5 separate regions of the Homo sapiens genome follow, and regions 2, 3, 4 and 5 are each linked to region 1. The links come from fine-mapping of genetic effects on gene expression. A gene starts in region 1. Each other region holds a variant in brackets. All regions are shown on one strand. Distances are between the middles of the regions.

Evidence for each region. PIP is the estimated chance that this variant, and not a neighbour inherited with it, causes the effect.
Region 2: its variant is fine-mapped to the expression of VIPR2 in whole blood (TOPMed, PIP above 0.99).
Region 3: its variant is fine-mapped to the expression of VIPR2 in whole blood (TOPMed, PIP above 0.99). The same link has a PIP of 0.9 or more in pancreas.
Region 4: its variant is fine-mapped to the expression of VIPR2 in whole blood (INTERVAL, PIP 0.97).
Region 5: its variant is fine-mapped to the expression of VIPR2 in whole blood (TOPMed, PIP 0.92).

The regions. Positions count from the first base shown.
Region 1 is chr7:159,142,235-159,147,339 of GRCh38, forward strand. It overlaps VIPR2 (vasoactive intestinal peptide receptor 2), which reads right to left and starts at 2,633. Exons shown (of 13, transcript NM_003382.5): 1 at 2,487-2,633; 2 at 212-311. The coding sequence starts at 2,537. RefSeq lists an enhancer at 4,431-5,105.
Region 2 is chr7:159,193,123-159,198,227 of GRCh38, forward strand. No RefSeq gene overlaps it. Among named protein-coding and RNA genes, the nearest start is that of VIPR2, 51 kb to the left of the region's middle. RefSeq lists an enhancer at 4,043-4,152 and a silencer at 4,263-4,332. The variant T/C (reference allele first, on the strand shown) is at 2,891.
Region 3 is chr7:159,113,072-159,118,176 of GRCh38, forward strand. All of the region lies in intron 2 of VIPR2 (vasoactive intestinal peptide receptor 2), which reads right to left. Among named protein-coding and RNA genes, the nearest start is that of VIPR2, 29 kb to the right of the region's middle. RefSeq lists an enhancer at 1-352. The variant C/T (reference allele first, on the strand shown) is at 3,201.
Region 4 is chr7:159,283,045-159,288,149 of GRCh38, forward strand. No RefSeq gene overlaps it. Among named protein-coding and RNA genes, the nearest start is that of VIPR2, 140 kb to the left of the region's middle. The variant T/C (reference allele first, on the strand shown) is at 2,260.
Region 5 is chr7:159,173,327-159,178,431 of GRCh38, forward strand. No RefSeq gene overlaps it. Among named protein-coding and RNA genes, the nearest start is that of VIPR2, 31 kb to the left of the region's middle. The variant T/C (reference allele first, on the strand shown) is at 3,182.

The DNA of each region.
Region 1 (5,105 bases):
GGTTATCTTTTTAAAGGTGTGTGTGAAGACCCTACCTATCCAACTCTCTCTGAGTTTTACCAGTAGTTCATTAACAAACAATGGGAAGTGGCCTTTCTTTTTCTTTTTTTTTTTTTAAGATGCAGGTGGTGACCCTGAACCACAGCTGAGTGAGGCGCATTCCCGGGTGAGAATGTCACGGGAGTTCTTACTCACCAAGCCTCTGCCTTACCTTTGTGTTTTTCTGTTTGAGACCTCAGAAGCTCTGCACATTTTGTTTCTTCCTCCTGTATTTCCAGATGAAATCGGCATTCTGGGTGAATGCTGTTCACCTGTTCACGGTTAAAAGAAATATTAATAACTAAAAATTCCACAAGAAGAAGAAAAGCAAGCAAAAATTCTACAAAAACAACCCCAAACCTCACAGCTTTAAACTGCTTCCAAACCAAAATGCATTTAAAACCAATCACCTTGATTTTTCTGGCATTTTTTAAAAACTTCACTATTTACTTTGTAAAGGTATTATAAAACAAACACAAAATCTAATAGAATTTTTTTTCTGAGCAGGAAAATGAACTTACTAACAGAATACATCGGTACTAATTTGGAGGCAACAGAGCTCTTTACTCCATTCATCTCTCCATACCCGGCTCCTCCGTTTCACACCCTTTGGTTTGGTTTAAGCGGATGCCTGTGGACTGTGCCGCTTCCTCCGAGGACGGCCTCCACCCGGGAAAGAGCCGTGATAGAAGGGCTTTATTTTTAAAGGTGTTGGTACATGTTCAAAGCTTAACCCTCTAACTACAGATAAAACTGCAATCGTTTTGACTAGAATTTGGGGTGGAAGAGATATTCAAAGAAATCAGCAAGATGAGGAGGGAGGCAGAGGTGGGGGAATCACACCATTGTGGCCCCACAGAGAAGAGGGGGCGATTTCCAGTCAGGATCCATCAGGGGAGCGAAAGGTGCCACAAAGATAGTAATTAACAGTCTACTAATGTGAGAAGAAGGCAGAACTACACAATGCTTCCTCTCAGAAGGCACCGTTTCTACCTTGTTCTTCACGCCCTCCGCGAAGTCAGCACAGGCCTGCCAAGCGGCCCTTGGGGGCTTAAGGAGGGCTCCCCCCACCCATCCTTTTGGTCTTGATCTTCCCCCTCCCCCACCACCGACCAAAATTCTACTTGTACTAAAGTAGTAACTAAAGAGAATCATACTGTTGGGCGTACTATGGCCATCTATGTTTAGTTATCTTACTATTGAAATGGTCAATGAGAGTTCCAACCAGGAACACAATATCCTAACAGAATTAAGGGGAAAACAATGCTGGAACTTCTGCCACCTTCAGCCCCATTTAAAAGAGCCCCGAGCTTGCTTCTTGCTCGTGACTGAACCAGCACCAGGCACTGACTTTGGGCTCCAAGTCCTCTGTTTTCATGCAGGACAAGTAAGTGGCTTAAATTTCAGAATTAAGGAAATTATATTGATGTAAAAAGAAAAACTTTGTTAAAGTGTAAAAGACATTAATAATACCTGACGTTCCTGGAATATGCACAGCAATGACTTCTTTTAGGACATTTTAGCAATGAAAGCAGCATTAACCGTGATAAAACCCGTTACTTTCCAAGGACCCGCTCCGCAAAGCGCCCACCCTCGAGGGAGGAAAGCCGAGCTGCGCCTCCGCGCAAGGCCAGGGAGTGTGGCTCGAGCCCCGCTGCAGACCGGGCGTCGCCGGTTAATCAATGACACTGTCGGGTCAGCAGCGCAGCCTCCCAGCTGCGGAGGGGCCGCGGATCGATCCAGACCTGCCTCGGCTGCGACGCGCACGAAAACCGCGCGCACCGCAAACCCGCTTCAGTCTCCAAGAGGAAAGCAAGAAACAAGGCTCGGGTTTTTTTCTTTCTTTTTTCTTTCCTTTTTTTTTAAGGTTCACAGAGGGAATAATTCAGAACTCCATGTGCGAAGGCACTTAATCAACAAACTTATGAGCAGTTAGTTCCTCCAGTGCCCTTGGGAAAAAGCAACTATTTCCAAAAGGAAACTTTATTTAACCGACGCCACGTCCCCCCGACACTAAAACTAACCAGTAAGTACAGGGAGGGACCGAGAGGCATCTGCGGCCAACGCCAACCCCGATCTCCCCGTGAAACGCGCAGCCCGCGCAGGCGCCCGCAGCTCCCAGCTCCCGGGACGGCCCCGAACGAGCTCATCGTTGACGCGTCCAGGAAGAAACGATCCCGTTTCCAGCAAACCCCGGACGGTGGGGCGCGGGGAAGGGCGCAGGCAGCCTCCCAACCCGAGTCCCGCAACCCGGCGGGACCGGAGCTCAGCGCTTCACGCTCTCCGGGAGGAAGCTCCGGACCCCGGGCGACCCCGCTCCCTCTCCCGGACCCCGCCCGCGCTCCAGCACCCGGGAGGAAGGCGAAGACCGGCGGGAGGAGCGCTCTTCTCGGAAGGGGAGAACCGGGTCCGAGGCGCCGTGGGGCGGGGGTCGCGGGCGCACTCACGGGGGCGAGCAGCCAGCAGGTCAGCAGCGCGGGAGGCAGCAGCGTCCGCATCCCGAGCTCAGCGTGCCGGGGGCCGCCCAGCGCCCGCCGCCTCCGTCCTAGGTCCCCGCGGTTCCGCCGCCTCCAGCATGGGCCGGGAGCGAGTGCGCGGAGACCTCGGGCCCCGCAGCTGTAGCCGAGCGCCCGAGCGCGGGGGCCGCCCCCTCCGTCCCGGCAGCTGGAGCGCGCTCAATGCACGCCCGTCCCCCACGCGCCCCGCCGCTCCGCCCCCCGCCCCTGTCCCCGCCCCGCGCTGCCCCAATCCTCGTCTCCCTCCTCCCCCGAGAACCCCCGCTCCGCGCCCCTCCTCACCGCCCCCCACTTCCCCTTCCGCTGCGCCCCGCGCCCTCTCCTCGCCCCTGGGCTCTCTGTCCCCGCCGCGCGCGCTCCCTCTGGTCTCCTCGACCCCCCCAGCCTCTCTCTCCGTTCTCCTCCCCTCTTCCCTGGCCCACGCCCCCCTCCCGGCCGCGCCTCCCCGATCTGTGGGCGGAGGGGCTGGGAAGCGGGGTGCTCAGTGCGCGCCCGGCTCCGAGTAGAGAGAACTGGGGGAGAGCGGCCGGCGCGGGGCCGGGAGAGGAGGACCGGGCCAGGTGTGCGCTCGGAAGGGGCGGATGCCTTTGCGGCCGCCTGTACCTGCCTTTCTAAACAACTGCGGAAGCCCAAGAAAGCGGCCAGAGACCCGTCCGGGGTGGGCGCGCCGTCTTTGTAGCCAGTGGGGCTAGGTTGGGGCATCTGAAAATGGAGAAAATCAGAGTGCTTTTTGGTGGGGATCCCCGCAGCCTCAAAGAGGACATCAGGTCGAACAGAAAGCTGGAGAAAAACGCAGACGGGGGTATAGGTGGGTCCCAGCCTCAGCTGGGTGGCGGGTTTTGTGTCCTGCGTTTGCAAAACGGGGGTCATTCTCTCCCCGCAAACGCGGCGGCGGGTGGGGAACGCTGGGCGGGGACTCACGCGGTGCCACTGGGGCCGCCCCGCCGCGCCCCACGCGGGACTGCGCGGCCTCCCAAGGCGCCCGCGTGACCAACCCAGGAGAGCTCGGCGTTCCCCAGCAAGTGGAAAGCACTGGAATGAGAGATACAAGTTAAGTTCGTGTTGTTTTAATTTTTTATTTGGAAATAATTTCAAACTTACACAAAAATTAGAAGAATAAGAATATTACAAATAACTCCTTTTTATCCTTTTTGTGGATTCGGTCATTAACATTTACCTCATTGGGCTTATCATTTGCTTCTCTCTGATCCCCCACCCCCCGTATTCACAGATATCGATTTTTCTATCATCTGATGTTTATCATCCACATTATCTATCATCTACCTATCCATCATCTACGTATCATCTATCGATCTGTCATGTACCTATCATCTATCATCTTCCTATCGATCATCTATCTGTAATCTGTCATCTATTATCTGTCATCTATCATCTACCTGTCCATCATCTACCTTTCATCTATCCATCTGTCAGGTATCTATCATCATGCGCCTATCATCTATCATCCACCTTTCCTCTATCACCTACCTGTCATCTATTATCTATGATCTATCCATCTATTATGTACCTATCATCTATCATTTGCCTATCTTTCATCTGTAATTTACCTATCTATAACCTGTCATCTACCTATTTATCATCTATCATCTGCTGTCATTTATGATCTATCCATCTATCATGTACCTATCATCTCTGTATCATGTATCAATCAGCTATCATCTACCTATCATCTCTCTGCGATCTATTACCTATCTATTACCTACCATCTACCTATTTATCATCTATCATCTACCTCTCTGTCATTTATCTATGATCTGTCATGTACCTATCATCTATTATCTTCCTATCGATCGTCTATCTGTAATCTATCATCTATTATCTGTCATCTATCATCTGCCTATCCATCATCTGTGATCCGGCATATCTGTGATCTACCTGGCTGTCATCTATCAATCACCTATCATCTGCCTATCTGTCATCTGGCTGGCATCTATCAATCACCTATCATCTGCCTATCTGTCATCTGCCTGTCATCTATCAATCTATCATCTGCCTATCTGTCATCTGCCTGTCATCTATCAGTCTATCATCTGCCTATCTGTCATCTGCCTGTCATCTATCATCTGCCTATTTATCATCTATCTGTGATCTATCATATCTGTGATCTGCCTGTCATCTATCAGTCATCTATCATCTGCCTATTTGTCATCTATCTGTGATCTATCATATCTGTGATCTGCCTGTCATCTATCAGTCATCTATCATCTGCCTATCTGTCATCTGCCTGTCATCTATCATCTGCCTATTTGTCATCTATCTGTGATCTATCATATCTGTGATCTGCCTGTCATCTATCAGTCATCTATCATCTGCCTATCTGTCATCTGCCTGTCATCTATCATCTGCCTATTTGTCATCTATCTGTGATCTATCATATCTGTGATCTGCCTGTCATCCATCATCTGCCTGTCATCTATCGATCATCTATCATCTGCCTATCTGTCATCTGCCTGTCATCTATCCTCTACCTGTTATCTATCTGGCTTCATCCATGTGTATCTAGTGGGAGACGAGGAGAGGGAGACCTGG
Region 2 (5,105 bases), 51 kb after region 1:
AAACTTCAAAAAATGTGAAAACATTCGAAAGAAGACAGTGTCTCCTGGGATCTGGGCAGCAGGCTGGGTCTGAACTCTCGCTTACCTCTTGTGGATGTTAACACAGCCTGGAATTTCCTGGTTTGTTAGTCAAGGAATACTTTACCCAGGTGCAATCCATCTGCTTTCATTTTTTTAGTCAGTAAATTGGACTCCTTTCTTTTTATCTGCTTGAAATGACTAAAGCAATGTGTGTGTTGTTTTTAGAATGGAAGGCTTTGCATAACGGACACTAACATTATTTCTTTCCAATCATGTTGCAAGTTGCCTGCATGTTGTGTAAACCAAAGAGTGCCTGATACGGGTCTCAATCAGCTTAGAGGTTTATTTTGCCGAGGTTGAGGATGTACTCAGGAGAAAGAGACAGACTGCAGTAGGACCTGTGGCCCATACTTTTTCCAAAGAGGGTTTTGAGGGCCTCAATACCTAAAGGAGAAAAGCAGGCAGGAGGGGAAGGAGGAAAGGAAAAAAAGATTTTTTTCTGTAGAAAAAAATCAGACAAGAAGTTGCATTCTTGTGAGGCTTTGATTAGTGCTCAGTGAATCCACAAGCTGCAGGTGAAAGGAGGGGAGAGGAACAGCGGAGTATGTGGCTGTCTCTCACTCAGTGAATCTGCACTTTGCACGAGATGAAGTACACACAGAGTGGAGGAAGAAGTCGAACAGGCATTCATCTCAGGGTGGGTGGTGGGACAATTTATTGTCCTGCACTCACAAAGATAAGGTGTTAATTTACACTGTCAGGGTGAGAGAGGCCACCTGGGGAGGTCCCTGTTTAACAGAAGGAAAGGGAGTTGTTTGTGGCTCAGTTTCCAAGCTCAACTTTCCCTTTTGGCGTAGTGAGTTTGGGATCTGAGATTTTATTTTCCTTTTGCAGTTGCAATGTACTTATTATCAAAGTTAGGGCATCCATCTACTCCAGAGTAATTTTGCTTTTAGGATGAATCAAAATAATGCCTCATATCTGATATTTTGAAAAGCTCTTCACAGCAAGAAGGAATTTTGCTGATTTTGGAGCAAGAGCGGTGAGAGCAGGATGATCCCAAGTCCTACCCTGTTTTAGTCACTCCAAGAAAAGGTTTCTCACGGAAGAGGAATGAGTCTGTGTCAACTGTTCCCAAGACATCCTGTAGGAGCCCAGAAGGCCAGGAGCCCAGAAGGCCCTGGACATTTTGGGAGCACCCATTCTAAGGAAGTGGGCACTTTCACCAAGTAAACAGAAAGAGGTCGGGAGGAGCTCTCTACGATATGTTTTCCACTTACGCTGATACCTTAAATCACACAATTAAGGATCCAGATTTTTCATTCCATGTTAGGTAAAAAGCTTTAAAAGCATATGGCCTCAGTAAAGCCAGCACACCAATTCCAAACTGCTGCTCGGTGCAACTTGAGAATGCAGCAGAAATTGTGCATGTGTTGACACTGCTCCATTTCATTAGGAAGAATGAAAACAGGAAATACAGGTGAAAATCTTCCAAACTTTGAAGTAGTCAAAGATTTCTTAAATAAGCCCAACAAGAGTTATCAATAACAGAAAATCAAATTACCTTAAAGAAATTGGAAACACATTACAAAATAAAAACAGATATGTTCCGCACAAAATGCACAAAGGCTTAGTGTCTATAATTCAAAGAACTATTATAAATCAATAAGAAAAGGACTGATAATTCAATTACAAGTGTCCAAAAGGCAGCACACAGTTCAAAAAAATGGAACATATAACCAACAAATATATGCAGAGGCCGAATATCCTTAGTGATCAGGAAAATGCAAGTCCAAATCACAGAGATAACATTTTACTGTCATTTAAGTGGGAAAAAGTGGTGACATCTGATGGCACCAAGCAAAGGGGCAGATGCAGATTGCCTGGACCCCATGCACATTCCTGGTGGGAATAAAGCTGGAGCTGCTGCTGTGGACAGCAGCTTGTCCCTATGCTGGGAGCTGCGGCATTCATATTCCCTGTGAGCACCAAAGGCATCAGCAAAAATGTTTCATTCACAGGAAAGCAAAAATCTGGAAACAATTCAAATCACTTCTAACAGGAAAATGGATAAACTGTTGCACATTCCAACCATACGTTATTTTACAGTGCTCCAAGTGAAGAATATAGCGACATGCAATCAGATGCATAAATTTTAACAATCAGACCGGGTGCGGTGGCTCACACCTGTAATCCCAGCATTTTGGGAGGCTAAGGTGGGTGGATCACGAGGTCAGGAGATAGAGACCATTCTGGCTAACACAGTGAAACCCTGTCTCTACTAAAAATACAAAAAATTAGGCGGGTGTGGTGGCTGGTACCTGTAGTCCCAGCTACTCGGGAGGCTGAGGTAGGAGAATTGTATGAACCCGGGAGGCAGAGGTTACAGTGAGCTGAGATGGCGCCACTGCACTCCAGCCTGGGCGACAGAGCAAGACTCTGTCTCAAAAAAAAAAAAAAAGAAAAAGAAAAAGAAAAAATTTTTTAACAATTTAATTTTGCCTGGCAAGTGAAAATCCCAAAATTAAAAAAAAAAAAAACAACCAACTAAAACTGAAGCCACATGATTTTTAGGGACATACTTCCAAGGTAGACACATATGTGCAGGAAGCCCAGACACAGACATCAGCCATCTGGGGAGAGGGAGGGATGGGGGCATTCAGGCAGATGTAGGTTCGTTTCCAATGCCCTACTTTTCATTTGGGGTAACTTTAGTAGGTAGTTGTTGAATTGTTTAAATTAATTTTTAAAAGCAGGCTTTGCATGAACAATGATGAGAGTATGTAAAAAACTGAAGTTTCAATTAAAAGAAATAAACAGGAAATGACCATGTGTTGAAACCAGAAGCAGCTGAGCTGAGAAAATCTTA[T/C]CAGAAAGTGAGAAAATAGCGCGACAAACAGCCACAAGAAGAGGGCTCATCTGTGTGAGTACAAACGTGGCCTGCTCCATCGTTTTGCTGAACCAGCCTTGACAAGGGCACTTTACTCTGGTTAAATTCCAGAGAAGCAATTTTTCTAAAACAACTTTGTCTCCTCTTTGGGGATCAAAGGCAGAATGTGCCATTTTCTACCTCCTAGCGAGGGGATACATTTGAAATCCTCCAAGAGCTTAAGAGTTTGCATCTTGGCCACTTTCCCAGCATATGTGCTTTAAAGAGACCAGAAAATGGTGTTTTCAAAATACTTCCTGGAATCTTTTATAAGGTAATAAATCAGCAGGAAAGGTCACCCGGCCTGCTCCTTCTTACCACTTCTGTAATAAACATAAGTTTCCATTAATATTAAATATTTCTTATGACAATTTTAGTCTAAACATATTATCAATTATCTTAGAAATGAACTATGTCACTAATAAAAATCATCATCATATTAATTTTCTATTTGGCTTTCAAATTTATAAAACCTTTATCATCTCATTTGATAAAATCCTGTGATAGTTTCATTACAACACAAATTGCATGTTGTAATCATCTTGCTTAGTTTCTGTCACTTTTTAAAACCTGATTTGTCTGTCACCATGCTGGAATGTCAGTGCCTCTGTGGCATCACCTGTCTCTCTTGCCACCGCCTGGCTCAGGCCTGGCACGTGCTCAGTGAGTTTGCAAGACTGAAGGGCACCCCTGCCTCCACGTCAAATCCCAGGGGTCCCTCACGGCGCTGCATGTGGGAAGATGGAGGCTGAGCCCCAGTTTGCATGCCATGGTGCTGGCCCTCGCGTATGAAATACACCAGTGATTATAAAGGTTAGTGAAAAATCTAATTATGAAATTGTACATAAACTACGATTAACTCTTTTTGTATATAGAAGAGGATACAAGGAAATATATCTAAATTGCTATGTTCACTATGCTCAGTGATAAGATTAAAGGTACATATTTTTCCCCTTTGATTTTCAACATTTTCTCAAACGTGCTTCTATTACTTTTACAAATTATCATAATCAGAGACGTAATACCCTGAGTCACCTGTTGTGTTTACTAAGACAACAAAGTACTTTGGGGTTTCTTTGCTCCTTGCAGACAGGGTGGTGGAACTGAGGGAGACTGCAGCCAGCCCAGTCGTGCCCACCCGGGCTTGCCACAGAGTTCATGGGCCTTGGGGGCTTCGTGCATTCTGCTCCCTGCTTAGAAACAGCCTCCCCCAGGCCTTCCCCGCTCCTTAGCGTGGCTGACTTCCTCTGGTCCTTTAGGGCTCAGCTCACCCGACTCCTCCCAGGAAAAGCTCCCCAGTCAGAGGTTCCTCCCTCTGGTCCTTTAGGGCTCAGCTCACCAGACTCCTCCCAGGAAAAACTCCCCAGTTAGAGGCTCCTCCCACGTGCTTTTATTTAGCTCCCTCAGCAGCTACTATGCGTCTTCATGACCTGTTTACCTCGTTCCCCAGGGAAGTCACAGGCTCCCTGAAGACAGGAGCCGTGTTTTGGTCACGGCCTCCTCGCACTGGCCTGCAGGAGAAGCTCCAGGGATACGTGAACGGATAGATGAGTGAGAGGCTTTGGGTGCCCTGAGCTCGAGTTTGTGTTTTAAGGCAAGTCATATCACTTATCAGTCATATCACTGCAGAATGAGAATGCTAAATTTCTCTTGTTCTTACATCCTGTATTTGCACAGCACTTTCACGTTATCACGTGTGACAGAAGGAAGACAGCCTCAGCCTCCCGGCTCAGCCACTGGGTCTAGTCCATTGGGCACAAATACAAACCTGCAAGGTGTGTGTGGCTCGGAGAGGGGCCCCTCAATGTCAGCAACAAGGGGGGATTTCAGAAGGTTCCAGTCTCCTTCTTACCTCTCTTCTCTACTTCTTACCTTCCTTCCTTTATTTATTCCTCTTTTCCTTCCTTTTTCAAATATTTTGAGCTCCTGCTGTTTCTATGCCAGAGAAGGAGGCAGGCCCCAGCGAGACCGAGAGAGCTGAGGGCCCGCTGGCCTGGAGGCCTCCGGAAGGCAGCTCCTTCACCACTTTTGATCCCCCTAAAATGTCAACAGACTTTAACCACTGATTATTTGTCATTTAGACCCAAGTGCTAATGAATCTGTCCCTGGTGAAGTTCAGGATGGGCCCCCGGGAGGACCTCGGGCCTGGGGGAGC
Region 3 (5,105 bases), 29 kb before region 1:
GACAGACCCTCTCACATTGTTTTAGATTGTTTTATACTCAGAAAAGGAAACAGAAGCGAAACTAAAGGCAGGTAGCCCAGCGCCTAGGAACCAGACCCGACACCAGGCCTGGACCTGCCTGACCTAAGCCTGGTAGTTAAAATTTGACCCCTGACCTAGCAACTGATGTTATCTATAGATTGCAGACATTGTATAGAAAGACACTGTGAAACTTCCCGGTCTGTTCTGTTTCACTCTGACCACCCGTGCATGCAGCCCCTGTCACATACCCCCTGGCTTGCTCAATCAATCATGACCCTTTCATGTGAAACCCTTAGCGTTGTGAGCCCTTAAAAGGGACAAAAATTGTGCACCTGACAAGCTCGGATTTTAAGACGCTAGTCTGCCAATGCTTCCAGCTGATTAAAGCCACTCCCTTCACCATCTCGGTGTCTGAGGGGTTTTGTCTGCAGCTCGTCCTGCTACAAGAGAAAAAATGGAACCCTGAGACCACCTCAGTGCAGTGTCTTGAGAGTGTTCTGGCCTGAGGTTTGATGCCTAATTATTGAGAGGTAGGTGAAAAACCCAGCAACAGAAAAACGAGGAAAAGCATAAAGTTATGAAGAAAGGAAATGCTGGATATTATGTGGCTCAACTGTGATGGCAATGATGTACACCAGCAATGTGAAGTGAGTCTATCAGGAGGCTGGCAGGATGATAAATTATACTTGGGTGGTGGGAATGGCACAGGAGAGATAGATCTTTATTCTTGTTAGAAATCTAATGGACACTGGGATGTAAATTGGGAGGAAGAAAGAAAAGAAACAGGAGCATAAGTATGCTGTTTAGAAATAAAATAAATACCAGAGAAGAGATGAAAGAGATGCTGCCATAGGGCTGAGAACTGGGGATGACGAGGGGCCGGAGACTATTATCTTCATACAGCCTTGTAGTATCATTTGCCTTTTACAATTTTATAAATGCACTCTGTTGAAAACTAGCATTTAAAGTGTATCATTATATTAAGATACCCATTTTTAAATGTTTACATTTTTAAGGAACATTGTGCAGGCCAAAGCAAAATAGTGCATGAATAGGTCATCAGTTCAGTGTTGGACATAAGTGATTCAAATTTGGCACAGTGAACCCTTTGGGAGAGGCAGCGAATTTGGGAGAGGCAGCAAGTCCTTCTGTAGGAGTGTGCGCCGAGGCACAGGACGGCATGGGAGGAGAAGGGGAGGCAGGCAGGGCCACCCCCGAGAGAAGCACAGCCACTTGGAGACGCCTGTCTGTTTGGAAAGCAGTGGGCAGCTGAGATTTCATGAAACAAAGGATTTGCAGATGGAGTGAGAAACAAACAAAAGTGCTCGGATAAGGCAGTCAGGGAAATGGGACTTGTTAAGCTCTGGTGGCAACCTAGGTTTTCCAGATGGTGATCATAAAATCAAAGGTCGCTCTGAAAAGTGGAAAATGTATCAATAGACTCTGAAAAGTTACTTGGTAAAATTCAGTGGCCATTTCTAATTTTTTAAAACCCTAAATAAAATAGTAAAATAATGAGACTCCCTTAACATCACAGAGAATATTTGTTAAAAATAGCAAGCATTAAGCCAGGCACTGTGGTAAGTACCTGCAGTCCCAGCCACCCAGGAGGCTGAGGTAGGAGGATTGCTTGAGCCCAGGAGCTTGAGTCAAGCCCGGGTGACTGAGTGAGGCCCTGTCTCAAAGAAAAAAAAGAGGAAAGAAAGAATAGAAAGAGAGAGAGGGAGAGAGAAAGGAAGGAAGAAGGGAGGGAGGGAGGGAGCGGGGAGGGAAGAAAAAGAGAAAGAGCAAGTATTAGACATGTTTAAACAGAATTGTACAACTGAGGAGCCAGGTTGGGTACCTGCAATTCATTATTATTCAACAATGTGTCATAAGTTGCAGCTAAAACAGCAGATGAAAGAAGAACTAAGAGGTATAAATTGGTAAAAAGTAGAGAAAAAACCCTAGAACTGTACTTTCTATATGGCAACCACTAGCCTCACATGGCCATTTAAATGAAAGCTAATTAAAAGGAGATGCAGTTAAAGGTTTGGTTCCTCAGTTGCAGCCGCCGCATTTGAATGCTCCGCAGTGGAACTTGGCTGGTAGCCATCACACCAGCATTTCCACTACCATGGGAAATTCTACTCGACAGCACTGTCTAGGGTCAGAGTTAGACAAATGCAACATAAACCCAGCAAACCTGTCTCACAAATCAAGAAGCAAAAAGAGAGAGAAAAGAGCAATGAAACCCTTTGGCTCGCACACCGAGGCAGAAGCTCAGAGGAGCCGCTTCTCTGGGTCATTGTTCTTCGGCTAAAATGTCCCATGTAAATAATCCAAAATACCTTTGAATCAATATAAATGATAAAGTTGTTTCACTTATCACCCCAATCTTCCTCTTTCAAAACTTGGCAGAGGGGTAGAGAAGGAGCCTCCTCTGATCTCAGCAGCCTCTCACCCAAAGTCATGGTCAGGGCTTGGCAGGCAAGCCTGGCTGAAACAGGACTTCAATCTGTCTGCTTTGGACGTCTCACCTTAATTAGAACACAGCAAGGTGTGTCACCACTAGTGCTTAGAATGTGTCACCAAAGCCCCTGAGCTCAGGCTTGCTGGCTGGGTCGTCCCTTGGCCTTTTCAGATCACGCCCCTGACGTGCTGCCTGCAGCCTCCAAGGTCAGGGTGCTGGGAATGGAGGAACTCAGGCTGGCAAAGCTGGTGTCCGAGCTGCCCCACGCCCTCTAGCTGCCCTTCTCACCTCCGATTCCGTTGCTGCTTCTAGTCTTTCCTAAGCACTCAAGTCAGCTTCCTGGGGCCACGTGCTTCCTTTCATATACCAGCTTAGGCTGCGTTTAGCTAAGTAGTCAGGCAGCAGGTGTGAGGCATCGATTTGTTTGTGAACAGCAAGGTCTCCCAGGGCTGCTGTGAGCTCCACCCATTGGACATGGGGTCTTGTCCCCACCCTGCTATGTGGCCCCGTGACCTGTGCTGACCCCTCGGACTGACAGGCTCTTCCTTCTGGAAGGTGGTCATCACGGAAGGGCTGGAGCAGTTGGTGGGAGCCCTGGTCGGAAAGGCTGCAGGGAGAAGGCTTAGGCACCTGCTGAATGTAGGAAAGGAACAGCTTGGGTGACGTGGGCAGAACCTTTTGGGCCAACCTCAGAGCCTTGGGAGGAGCCAACTACTAATTTTGAAGC[C/T]AAGTTTCAGGAGATTTGTGCCATAGCCACACATAACCAGGAGCAAATCTTCCTGGGAAGCAAACAGCTGGCAGAGCAGAGTCACATGGGCCCTCCAGAGGGCACTGCAGTGGGTTGGCACCGGCATGGTCAGTGCCCGCATGGTCAGTGCATTTGGGAAAGCAAGTGGGCAGAGTGGGCAGTGACCGGTGGTCAGTCACAGGGGCTGGTCAGGGGGCTGGAAGCTTCCAGGCAATGAGTGACTTTTCAATGTAGACTGGCAGTGGTGGCTTCCTAATTTTTGCTTGAAAATCAGCTTAGTCTCCTGAAAAAGACACTGTAGACTAAGTCGTTCAGAAAAACGGACCCTGTGATGGTGCAGCCTTCCGACATTTCTGAGGCTTCACAGCATTTTCAACGGAATACACAGGGTTTGGGAAAGGCTGCTGCTTGAACAAGTTCTTACCGGTATGCTGGGAATTCCTCCAGGTGGAATTCTGAGGAACACAGCAGTAACTCAATTATGTGACACCTTCCAGCCAAAGGGGAGTGCGCACAGAGTGGGGAGGAACCTACAGGAACCTGCAATCCTACCGTATAAAAGACGCTGCCTTCTGTCCAGAGACTCCCTAGGAAGTCCTGGCTCTTACAGATGACGTTATAGGTGTTACTTTGAGCTCTGGATTTGGATTTATTTTCTCATTATTTCAATGTCAATGACATAAACATCAATTAAATTTCAAGAGACTCTTACGACATGCTCCCCCTTATCTAGGAAATGACTTTTACATATACTCCATTTTGTCCTCCCAGCAACTCCCTGAAGAAGGCGAGAGCCCCTGTCCTCACACTGGGGAGGAGACCAGGTTCACAGAGGGGAGGAAACACACTCTGACCACAGGACGGAGTGCGGGAGCCAGCCGAGCAGTCGGGCTTCTGGGTCACTGCCCTTTCCCTAGAAGGTCCCTTGCCATCTCAGACTGCATGGGACTTGCTTTATCACCAGTGTATACCACACACGAGGCTTCCTGTGACTTAATTTCTCAATGATTTTGTAATTATAAAAGCACTGGTCATGGAGCCAATGGGTAGGTATGTGGGTCCAGGATCCTCTTTAAACCTCCGGCGTGAATGAGGATGAATCCCTTTGTATGGCCTGTGAACAGACAGGATAACAGTGAGCACATGAAACATAGTGCCGCACCACACAAAGGCAATGCAGGACGTCATCTCAGAGGTGGGGCTGCACCTGCTGACCTGAGTCATGGACACAGATGGGTGCAACTCCAGTTGTCACCTGCACCATGCTTGCCACGCAGCTCATGCTCTCTTTGGACAATGGGCAGCTCTGGGAGGTGGTGCCCTAGATCTTCCCATGGTTCCCCCACACCCTCCTTCCATCTTCAGAGTCACCTGCCCCTACCCCACATGCAACTCCACAGAGAGTGGCAGCTGAGGGTGGGTGGCCCAGGAGGCCCGAGTCATGGGAAGCCACCCTGCTGCTGTCATCAGTGACCAAGTGTCAGCAGGACTTGGAGGAGGGGCATGAGGGCTGAAGCTGCTTCATCCAGACAGGGCTGGGGAACAGCTCTAGGAACCAGCGAGTGGGAAAAGGAAAGCTGAGAAGCAAAGCCTCCTGAGACTGGCCATCGGCTCGGATGACAGCTTGCCTCCAACGCATTTAGAAGCAAATATTTCCAATCGCATCCTCCACTCAAGAAAGCTTGACTTATGTCTCAAGTGACAACAACAAAGCTTCCTCCAGAATCTGGGCAGAGCAGGAAGTCCCAGCTGGTTCTCACGGGGAGCTCAGAGAGGCCGGGGGCGTCCCAGTCATCGAATACTCCCCTTGCACAGCAAATAACGGGCTGAAGGATGAGCCACTCTCTTCCTGCTGGGGGGCTGCTGAAGCCCCTGTGACCACTC
Region 4 (5,105 bases), 140 kb after region 1:
AAAAGACAAATCTTTTGTAGTCTTCAAGTAATACTTAGTTCTTATACATTGTACTATGGTTTGAATGTGTTCCCTCCAAAATTCAGGTATTGATGCTTGACGGCCAAAGTAAAGATATTAAGAGGTGGGGTCTTTAAGAGGTGATTAGGTCATGAGGGCTCCACCTTTCCTGAATGAAATTAGGCCGCCTTATAAAAGGGCTTCATGGAGGGAATCTGTTTTGCTTGCCCTTCTGTTTTCTGCAATGTGAAGATACAGTGTTCCTCCCCTCTAGAGGGGATACAGCAACAAGGTGCCATCTTGGAAACAGAGAGCAGCCCTCACCAGACAACTGAATCTGTTGGTGCCTTGATGTTGGACTTCCCAGCCTCCTAAACTGTGAAAAAATACATTTCTGCTCTTTACAAATTTGCCAGTCTGTGATATTCTGTGATAGCAGCACAAAATTGACTAAGACAATATGTAAATATATAATATAGTTCAATATTAGTCTAGGTTCTAAGGTTTAGAATAGTACTTAACAAATTTAACAAGAAAGGTACAAGATCTATATAAGGAAGATGAAAAAACTATTAAGGCAAAATAGGATCTGAATAAATGGAGACACCACTTATCTGCTTGGGGAAGTATGTATATATGTTCATTCTCTTGAGAGAACATATACATTTTAATGCAAAAATACATTGTTTCTTTTTAAAAAAATTAAGCTCATCTGGAAGAATAACTAAATTTAAAATGCCAATTTTTCCCCCTTTTTACAGGGTCTCTTTCTGTTGTTCAGGCTGGAGAGCAGTTGTGTGAACATGGCTCACTATAGCCTCAACCCCCTGTGCTCAAGTGATCCTCCAGCCTCAGACTTCTGAGTAGCTGGGACCACTAGCATGTGTCACCATGTTCAGCTAATTTTAAAATATTTTGTAGAGATGAGGTCTCACCATGTTGCCCAGGTAGGTTTCCTGGGCTCAAGCTCTATCCTCCTCTATCCTCCTGCCTCAGCCTTCCAAAGATTATAGGCACCTGACCCCCAAAAAAATTTTTAATAAGGCAATTAAGACTCCATAAATATCAGAACATAGTATAAAGTTACAGTGATTCAAACAGCATGATATTTGTTCAAGAACAAACAGACTGGGAGATAGAATTAGGTCCCCAAACAGACCCATGTACCTATAGGTACTTAGAATCTGAGTAAGGTAGGGGCAGGGCTAAAAAGACCAACTAGAAACAGCAGCTATCAGAGGCTTCCATCATAAAGAACCGTAATTAGCATGTGAATCCTTCACCAGCAACCAAGGTATCCAGGTCTTCTCATCAGAACTGACTAGGCGGCTGACATGATCCACAGCAAGGAAGGAAAAGCAGTGTGGTGCAACGGCCCAACTGAGAGCTGCACAGGACAGGGGAGCCCCCACCTGCCAGCCAAGGGAGACAGTGAGTGAGCATGCTACCCAACTGGGGAAAACGTCCTTTTTCCATGGAATTGTGCAACCCATGAATCAGAAGATCCCACTTGTGAACCCACGCCACCAGGGCCTAGGGTCCCAACCCAGGAGCCACGCAGACTCTCAACAGCCTCTCAACTGGAATCTGCCTAAGTCTGCTGAGCTCCCAGGGGAAGAGGTGACCAGCACCACAGCTGTGGCTACCTACTGCCTAAGCCATTTGAGCTCCTGTGGGAGGGGCAGCAGCCAGCACTGGGACTCATAACTGCCTAACATGCTAAGCTCCCTAGGTGGGGGAAGAGTGGCATCCATCTCTATAGTTCCAGGCCATGCTTTTCCCATGCTGGAGCCAGAGATGCTGGATGGCTTGGTCCCCAAGAGATGTCCTCCACAGCCCAGCACACTGGCTGTTGCAGACTGTGGCCAGAGCACCTCTTCAGGCCTGACCCTGACACATCCCTCCTCACTGGGTGGGGCTTCCCTGCAGGAACTCCAATAACTCCAACCAGAGGCTCAGGGACAGAACCCAAATCTCCATGGGCCTGAGCCCCTAGGGGAGGGGTGGCCGCAGTCTCTGCGGACCAGCAGACTTAACCTTTCTTTCTGTAGTTCTGAGGAATCCGGGCAGCCCAGATGAGTGGATTTCCCCTCAGTGAAGCACACCCTCTCCACCAAGAGACAATCGAAGTGCTTCATTAAACAGGTTCTGTTCCCTGTACCACCCAACTGGGTGAGACCCTCCAACAGGGGTTGTCAGATACCTTATACAGAAGCAATCCTACTGGCATCAGATTGGTGCCCCTCGAGGTCAGAGATC[T/C]TAGAAGAAGGAGCAAGCACCCATCTTTGCTGTTCTCCAGTCTTCTTGAGTGACAGCTCAGGTGCAGGAGCAAACCAGATGAATAGGGCCTCAAGTGAATCCCTAGCAAACCACAGCAGCCCTACAGAAAGGGGACCAGACCATTGAAAGAAAAACAAACAGAAAGCAACAACAGCATCATCAACAACAAAATGTCCCCACAAAAGCCCATCCAAGGGTCAGCAGCCTCAAATATCGGAACTAGACAAACTCATGAAGATGAGAAAGAATCAACAAAAAAACACCTGAAAACCCAAAAGGCCAGAGTACCTCTTCTCCTCCAAATGATTGCAATGCCTCTCCAGCAAGGGCAAAGAACTGGACAGAGGATGAGATGGATGAATTGACAGAAGTAGGCTTCAGAAGATGGGTAATAAAAAACTCCACTGAGCTAAAGGAGCATGTTCTAACCCAATTCAAAGAAACTAAGAAACTTGATAAAAGGTTAGAGGAGCTTCTAACTAGAAGAACCAGTTTAGAGAGGAACAGAAATGAACTGATAGAGCTGAAAAACACAGCACGAGAACTTCGTGAAGCATACACAAATATCAATAGCCGAATCTACCAAGCAGAAGAAAGGATGTCAGAGTTTGAAGACCACCCTACTGAAATAAGACATGCAGACAAGATTAGAGAAAAAAGAATGAAAAGGAATGAACAAAGACCCCAATATGGGACTTCATAAAAAGACTGAACCTACAATTGATTGGAGTACCAGAAGGAGACAGGGAGAATGGAAATGAGCTGGAAAACACATTTCAGGATATTATCCGGAGAACTTTCCCAACCTAGCAAGACAGGCCAACATGCAAATTGAGGAAATACAGAGAACACCACTAAGATATTCCATGAGAAGATCAACCCCAAGACACATAATCTTCAGATTCTCCAAAGTTGAAATGAGAAAAAAATGTTAAAGGCAGCCAGAGAGAAAAGCCAGATCACCTGCAAAGGGAAGCCCATCAGACTAACAGCAGACCTCTCAGCAGAAAACTACAAGCCAGAAGAGACTGGGGGCAAATGTTCAACATTCTTAAAGAAAATAATTTTTAACCCAGAATTTCATATCCAGCCAAACTAAGTTTCATATGCAAAGGAGAAATAAAATCCTTTCCAGACAAGCAAATGCTGAGGGATTTTCTTACCACCAGGCCTGCCTTGCAAGAGCTCCTGAAAGAAGCACTAAATATGGAAAGGAAAAACTGGTACCAGCCACTGCAAAGACACACCAAAATATAAAGACCAATGACACTATGAAGAAACTGCATCAACTAGTGAGCAAAATAACCTGATAGCAACATGATGATAGGATCAAATTCACACATAACAATACTAACCTTAAATGTAAATGGGCTAAATGCCCCAATTAAAAGGCACAGACTAGCACATTGGATAAGGAGTCAAGACCCATTTGTGGGCTGTATTAAGGAGACCCATCTCATATGCAAAGACACACATAGGCTCAAAATAAAGGGATGGAGGAAAATGTACCAAGCAAATGGAAAGCAAAAAAAAAAAAAAAAAAAAAAAACAAGAAAGAAAAAAAGAAAAAGAAAAAGCAGGAGTTGCAGCCCTAGTCTCTAACAAAACAGACTTTAAACCAACAAAGATTGAAAAAGACAAAGAAACACATTACATAATGGTAAAGGGATCAATGCAACAAGAAGAGCTATTTTAAATATACATGCACCCAATACAGGAGCACCCAGATTCATAAAACAAGCTCTTTGAAACCTACGAACAGACTTAGACTCACACACAACAGTAGCGGGAGACTTTAACACCTCACTGTCAATATTAGACAGATCAATGAGACAGAAAATTAACAAGGATATTCAGGGCTTGAACTCAGCTCTGGATCAAGTGGACCTAATAGACATCTATAGAACTCTCCACCCCAAATCAACAGAATATACATTCTTCTCAGTGCCACATGGCACTTATTCTAAAAGCGACCACATAATTGGAAGTAAAACACTCCTCAGCAAATGCATAACAAACAGTCTCTCCAACCACAGTGCAATCAAACTAGAACTCAGGATTAAGAAACTTACTCAAAACCACACAATTTCATGGAAATTGAACAGCTTGGTCTTGAATGACTCCTGGGTAAATAAAGAAATTAAGGGAGAAATCAAGAAGTTATTTGAAACCAATGAGGACAAAGAGAAAACATACCAGATTCTCTGGGACACAGCTAAAGCAGTGTTAAGAGGGAAATTTATAGCACTAAATGGCTACATCAGAAAGCTAGAAAGATCTCAAATCAACACCCTAACATCACAATTAAAAGAGTTAGAGAGGCAAGAGCAAACTAATCCAAATGCTAACAGAAGACAAGAAATAACTAAGATCAGAGCAGAATTGAAGGAGATAGAAACACAAAAAACTCTCCAAAAAAATATATGAATCCAGGAGCTGTTTTTTTGAAAAAATTAACAAAATAGATAGACCACTAGCTACTATAAACACCTCTATGCAAATAAACTAGAACATCTAGAAAAAATGGATAAATTCCTGGATGCATACACCCTCCCAAGACTAAACCAGGAAAAAGTTGAATCCCTGAATAGACCAATAACAAGTTCTGAAATTGGGGCAGTAATTAATAGACTATCAACCAAAAAAAAAAAAAAAAAGCCCAGGACCAGATGGATTCACAGCTGAATTCTACCAGAGGTACAAAGAGGAGCTAGTACCATTTCTTCTGAAACTATTCCAAACAATTGAAAAGGAGGGACTCCTCCCTAACTCATTTTATGAAGCCAGCGTCATTCTGTACCAAAACCGGACAGAGACACAACAAA
Region 5 (5,105 bases), 31 kb after region 1:
TTGATGGCTGCTGACTGATCAGAGTGGGCGCTGCTGAAAGCTGGGATGGCTGTGGCAATTTCTTAAAACAATGATGAAGTTGGCTGCATTGACTGACTCTTCCTTTCACAAAACCTTTCTCTATCATGATGCTGTTTGACAACATTTTATCCCCAGTAGAACTTCTTTCAAAATTGGAATCAACCTCCTAAACTCTGCTGCTGCTTTATCAACTAGGTTTATTTAATATTCTAAATCTTCTGTTGTCATTTCAACAATATTCACAGCATTTTCACCAGGAGTAGATTCCATCTTAAGTCATTTTCTTTACTTACTCATAAGAAGCATCTTTTTATCCATGTAAGTTTGATGATGAGATTGCAGCAGTTCAGTCCCATCTTCAGGCTCCACTTCTAACTCTGGTTCTCTTGCTCTTTCCACCACATCTCTGGTTCCTTCCTCCACCAAAGTCTTGAACCCCTCATGGTCATCCATGAGCTGGAATCAACTTCTTCCAAACTCCTGTGAATGTTGATATTTTGACCCCCTCTCGTGAATCCCAAATGTTCTTAATGACATCTAGAGTGGTGAATTTTTTTCTGAAAGGTTTTCAATTTACTTTGCCCAGATCTATCTGAGGAATTACTATCTATGGCAGTTACGGATGTATGAAATATATTTCTTAAATGAGACTCAAAAGTTTAGATGACTCCATGGGCTGAAGAATGGTTGTTGTTTCAGCCGGCATGAGAACAACATTCATTCTCCATCAGAGCTCTTGGGTGACCAGGTGCATTGTCGATGAGCAGTAATATTTTGAAAGGAATATTTTTTGGGCAGTAGGTCTCAACAGTGGGCTTAAAATATTCAGTAAACCATGCTGTAAACAGATGTGTTGTCATCCAGGCTTTGTTGTTCCGTTTATAGAGCACAGGTAGAGTAGATTTAGTATAATTCTTAAAGGCCCTAGTATTTTTGGAATAGTAAATGAGCATTAACTTCAACTTCAAGTCACCAGTGGCATTAGCCCCTCACAAGAGACTCAGCCTGTCCTTCGAAGCTTTGAAGCCAGGCATTGGCTTCTCCTCTCTAGCTATGAAGGTCTTAGGTGGCATCTTCTTCCAAAAGCTGGCTGCTTCACCTACACTGAAAATCTGTTGTCTAGTGTAGCCTCCTTCATCACTGATCTTAGCTAGATCTTCTAGATAACTTACTGCAGCTTCACCTTGCACTTTATGTTATGGAGATGGCTTCTTTCCTTATACCTCATGAACCAACCCCTGTGAGCTTCCAACTTTTCTTCTGCAGCTTCCTCTCCTCTCTTGGATTTCACAGAATTGAAGAGAGTTCAGCCTGTCACCTCTGGATTAGGCTGTTTTGCTTTCTCATCATTTATTTGTTCACTGGGGCAGCACTTTTACTTTCCTTCATGAACTTTTCCTTTGCATTCTCAGCTTGGCTAACCATTTTTCACAACAGGCCTCGATTTCGGTCTTTCATGCCTTTCAACATGGGTTCCTCACTAAGCTTAACCATTTCTAGCTTTTGATTTAAGGTGAGAGAGGTGTGGCTTTTTCTTTCATGTGAGCACTTAGAGGCACTTGCCAAATTTAAATATTCTTGAGTCTCAGGAAATAGGGAGGCCCAAGGAGTGGGAGAGAGATGGGGGGAAGGTTGGTTGGTGGGGCCATTGGAACTTACAACATGTATTAAGTTGGCCACCTTATATGGGTCCCCAAACCATTACAATAGTAACATTAAAGATCAACAGTCACAGATTACCATAACATTTGTAATAATGAAAAAGTTTGGAATATTATGGTAATTATCAAAATGTGACACAGAAACATGAAGTGAGCACATGCTGTTGGAAAAATGGCACCTATAGCCTCACTCAATTCAGGGTTGCTACAAACCTTCAGTTTGTGAGAAAAGCAGCACCTGTGAAACACAATAAAGGGAAGTGCAGTAAAACGAGGCCTGTGGGTTCTCCTTCTGGGCTGCCGAATTTCCTGTGGGTTCTCCTGGGCTGCCGGATTTCCTGTGGGTTCTCCTGGGCTGCCGAATTTCCTGTGGGTTCTCCTTCTGGGCTGCCGGATTTCCTGTGGGTTCTCCTTCTGGGCTGCCAAATCTCCTGTGGGTTCTTCTGGGCTGCCGAATTTCCTGTGGGTTCTCCTGGGCTGCTGAATTTCCTGTGGGTTCTCCTTCTGGGCTGCCGGATTTCCTATGGGTTCTCCTGGGCTGCCAGATTTCCTGTGGGTTCTCCTGGGCTGCCGAATTTCCTGTGGGTTCTCCTTCTGGGCTGCCGGATTTCCTGTGGGTTCTCCTGGGCTGCTGAATTTCCTGTGGGTTCTCCTTCTGGGCTGCCGGATTTCCTATGGGTTCTCCTGGGCTGCCAGATTTCCTGTGGGTTCTCCTGGGCTGCCGAATTTCCTGTGGGTTCTCCTTCTGGGCTGCCGGATTTCCTGTGGGTTCTCCTGGGCTGCTGAATTTCCTGTGGGTTCTCCTTCTGGGCTGCCGAATTTCCTGTGGGTTCTCCTTCTGACACAGCAGGATTCCTGGTGTCCTTCATCTCCCTGCACGTCATCCATTTAGCTTCCAAATCTCACCTGCATCCAGCTCCAACTCCTCCACGCCCTGCTGAATGTCTCCAATTTCTTAGCAGAACATCTCAGCTCTGCTCATGCCTCCACCTGCGTGTCTGCCGCCTGCATCAACGCACTGAGGGCTCTGCCAGACCCAGGACTTGCCACGCTTCAGAATCAGTAAGTTAATACTTCTGAAGGGACTTTAGCTTTTCTGGCATATAGCAAGTTGAATAAATGTGTGTTTTCGTTAGTCTCTGTTTAATTAACCAAAAAATTATTTCAATAATACTGAGGTTTTTTGGGTCTCGGTACATTTTTTTGATACTTAAATGTCTCACGTGGCCCACTGGAGAGGAGACATATTTTCAGCATATATGACTATGAAACACTGTTTATGTTTCCTTGGGGGTAAGAAGTAGCAGGGATTTGAAGGGAAATGAGAATATAACTGGGTGAAGATAACTGTCTGTTAGGAGAAAAAACTTGGGACTGTAACTCACCCCCCAACTGGGAATGAGCCGAGAGATCAAAGAATGACAAGAATGGCTCGGATGAGTCCAGCCTGACGAGTAGGTGAGTTTACTGGGACTCACACACAGGGCACTCCTGGATGG[T/C]TGCAGGACAGCTCTAGAGGTCACCCTACCTCCCAATTCCAAGCTGCTTTTAAGCTAATTTGCTGGGTCTCTGCCTGCAGTGTGTGTGCAATGGGGCTGTTTTCCTTGCTTTATGTCCCCACACACAGCCCAGGATGTTGGGGTTCTCAGGGACACCTGCTTCTCAGCTGGGTGCCATGGACTTGGCCGGCTGCTGGACCTTCAGCTTTCAGTGACATACACACTTAAGTAACCTAGTGGGGCACATGTCACACCACACTGCTTTGTGTCATCATGTGTCAGCCCATTTCAGCTAGTGACAGCAGCCTTCACCTCTAGATCATTTTATGAAGTTTGTAAAATACAAATCTATACTGCAGGAAAAATGGGCCCAAAAGGCATATTTAATATTTTAAGTAACTTATTTCCTGCCAATTTGGGGTAAAAATTTCAGTTGCTTTTCCTTAAGACTGGCTAACCCTAAACACTTCCTAAGGCACTCATTATTGGATTGCTAAGCAAATGGGTGTTCACCTGAAGAGAAGGAAAATTAATGAGGCTATAAAGTTTAATCATAATAAAGATCATGAAGTCTTGTTTCGTAGCTAAAGAAATTGCCATATCAAAATATTCTACATCTCACTTTGATGAAATTGAGTTCAAAATTTAGATTTGATAATGAAAAATACGAAGCTAAAACTTATTTTTGTGTTGCCCTTGAGCTTACTCTGAAAACATGTAAGAGCAGAGAAGTCAGGAAATTTCTGTTGAGTTGAAAAAAACAACACTTTTGCTGATGTGAAAACTGTATGGCTGAACCAGAAAATAAAGATATTAACATAAATCCAATAAGGCAAGTTGTCTTACTATTTTGTTTTGTTAACCCAGGACCTCTTGTTCTCTAATTGTTTAAAGGAAATAACTCATAAAGTCTGACTCAAGCTAGCATTGGTGAGATCAGAGAGCTCAGTAAAAATTCCACACTTCCATGCTGCAGGCAATGAAGATGTCGCTGGAAGGGTGAGACCACCCAAGGCATCTCTTTGGCAATGAACTCATCCTTAAAGCAGACATGCTCTGACCACCAGTGAATTTTCCCTTCAGTAAAAATAGAGTCATATTTAGCTGGAAAGGTAGAAGAAAAGTAGGAGTCTATCTATATTTAAACCATATGGTCTGAAGTGAAATGAGAACAAATCTCCTGACAGATTGATGTTAGGAAAATTGAATGAAACACAAGTGCTTTTCAGCAGATCTAATTCAGAAGGAGGTTACTTGGAGTTGTAACACAGATTCTGACTCTCCTTTCAGTGCCAGGTTCACCGACATCTTCTGACATTTCTCCTCCTAAGTTGCATTCTGTGCGTAGGGGTTGTCCAAGTTGCTCTCCTCTAAAAAGGGGTTCCAAGAGGAACACATTGAGCAATAATTTATTTTTGAAATAGGAGTTTCATAAAGGTTTCCTTTGCTTTTGAGTTTTTAAAAGCATAGCTGGGCTGGGCGTGGTGGCTCACGCCTGTAATTCCAGCACTTTGGGAGGCCAAGGCAGGCAGATCACCTGAGTTCGGGAGTTTGAGACCAGCCTGGCCAACATGGAGAAACCCTGTCTCTATTAAAAAAAAAAAATAGAAAATTAGCCTGGTGTGGTGGCACATGCCTGTAATCCCAGCTACTCAGGAGGCTGAGGCAGGAGAATTGCTTAAACCTGGGAGGCGGAGGTTGCAGTGAGCCAAGATTGAGCCATTGCACTCCAGCCTGGGCAACAAGAGCAAAACTCCATCTGAAAAAAAAAAAAGAAAAGCATAGCTGATTCAGACTTAAACTGCTATTTGCTACCTGTGCTAACCTACTCCTACTCCAACTTATTGGCAGTGGAAACCATTGAAGAGATCAACAGATATCAAACTTGAAAGAGTACCTTTTTTATAGTTATTTTCACATTTTT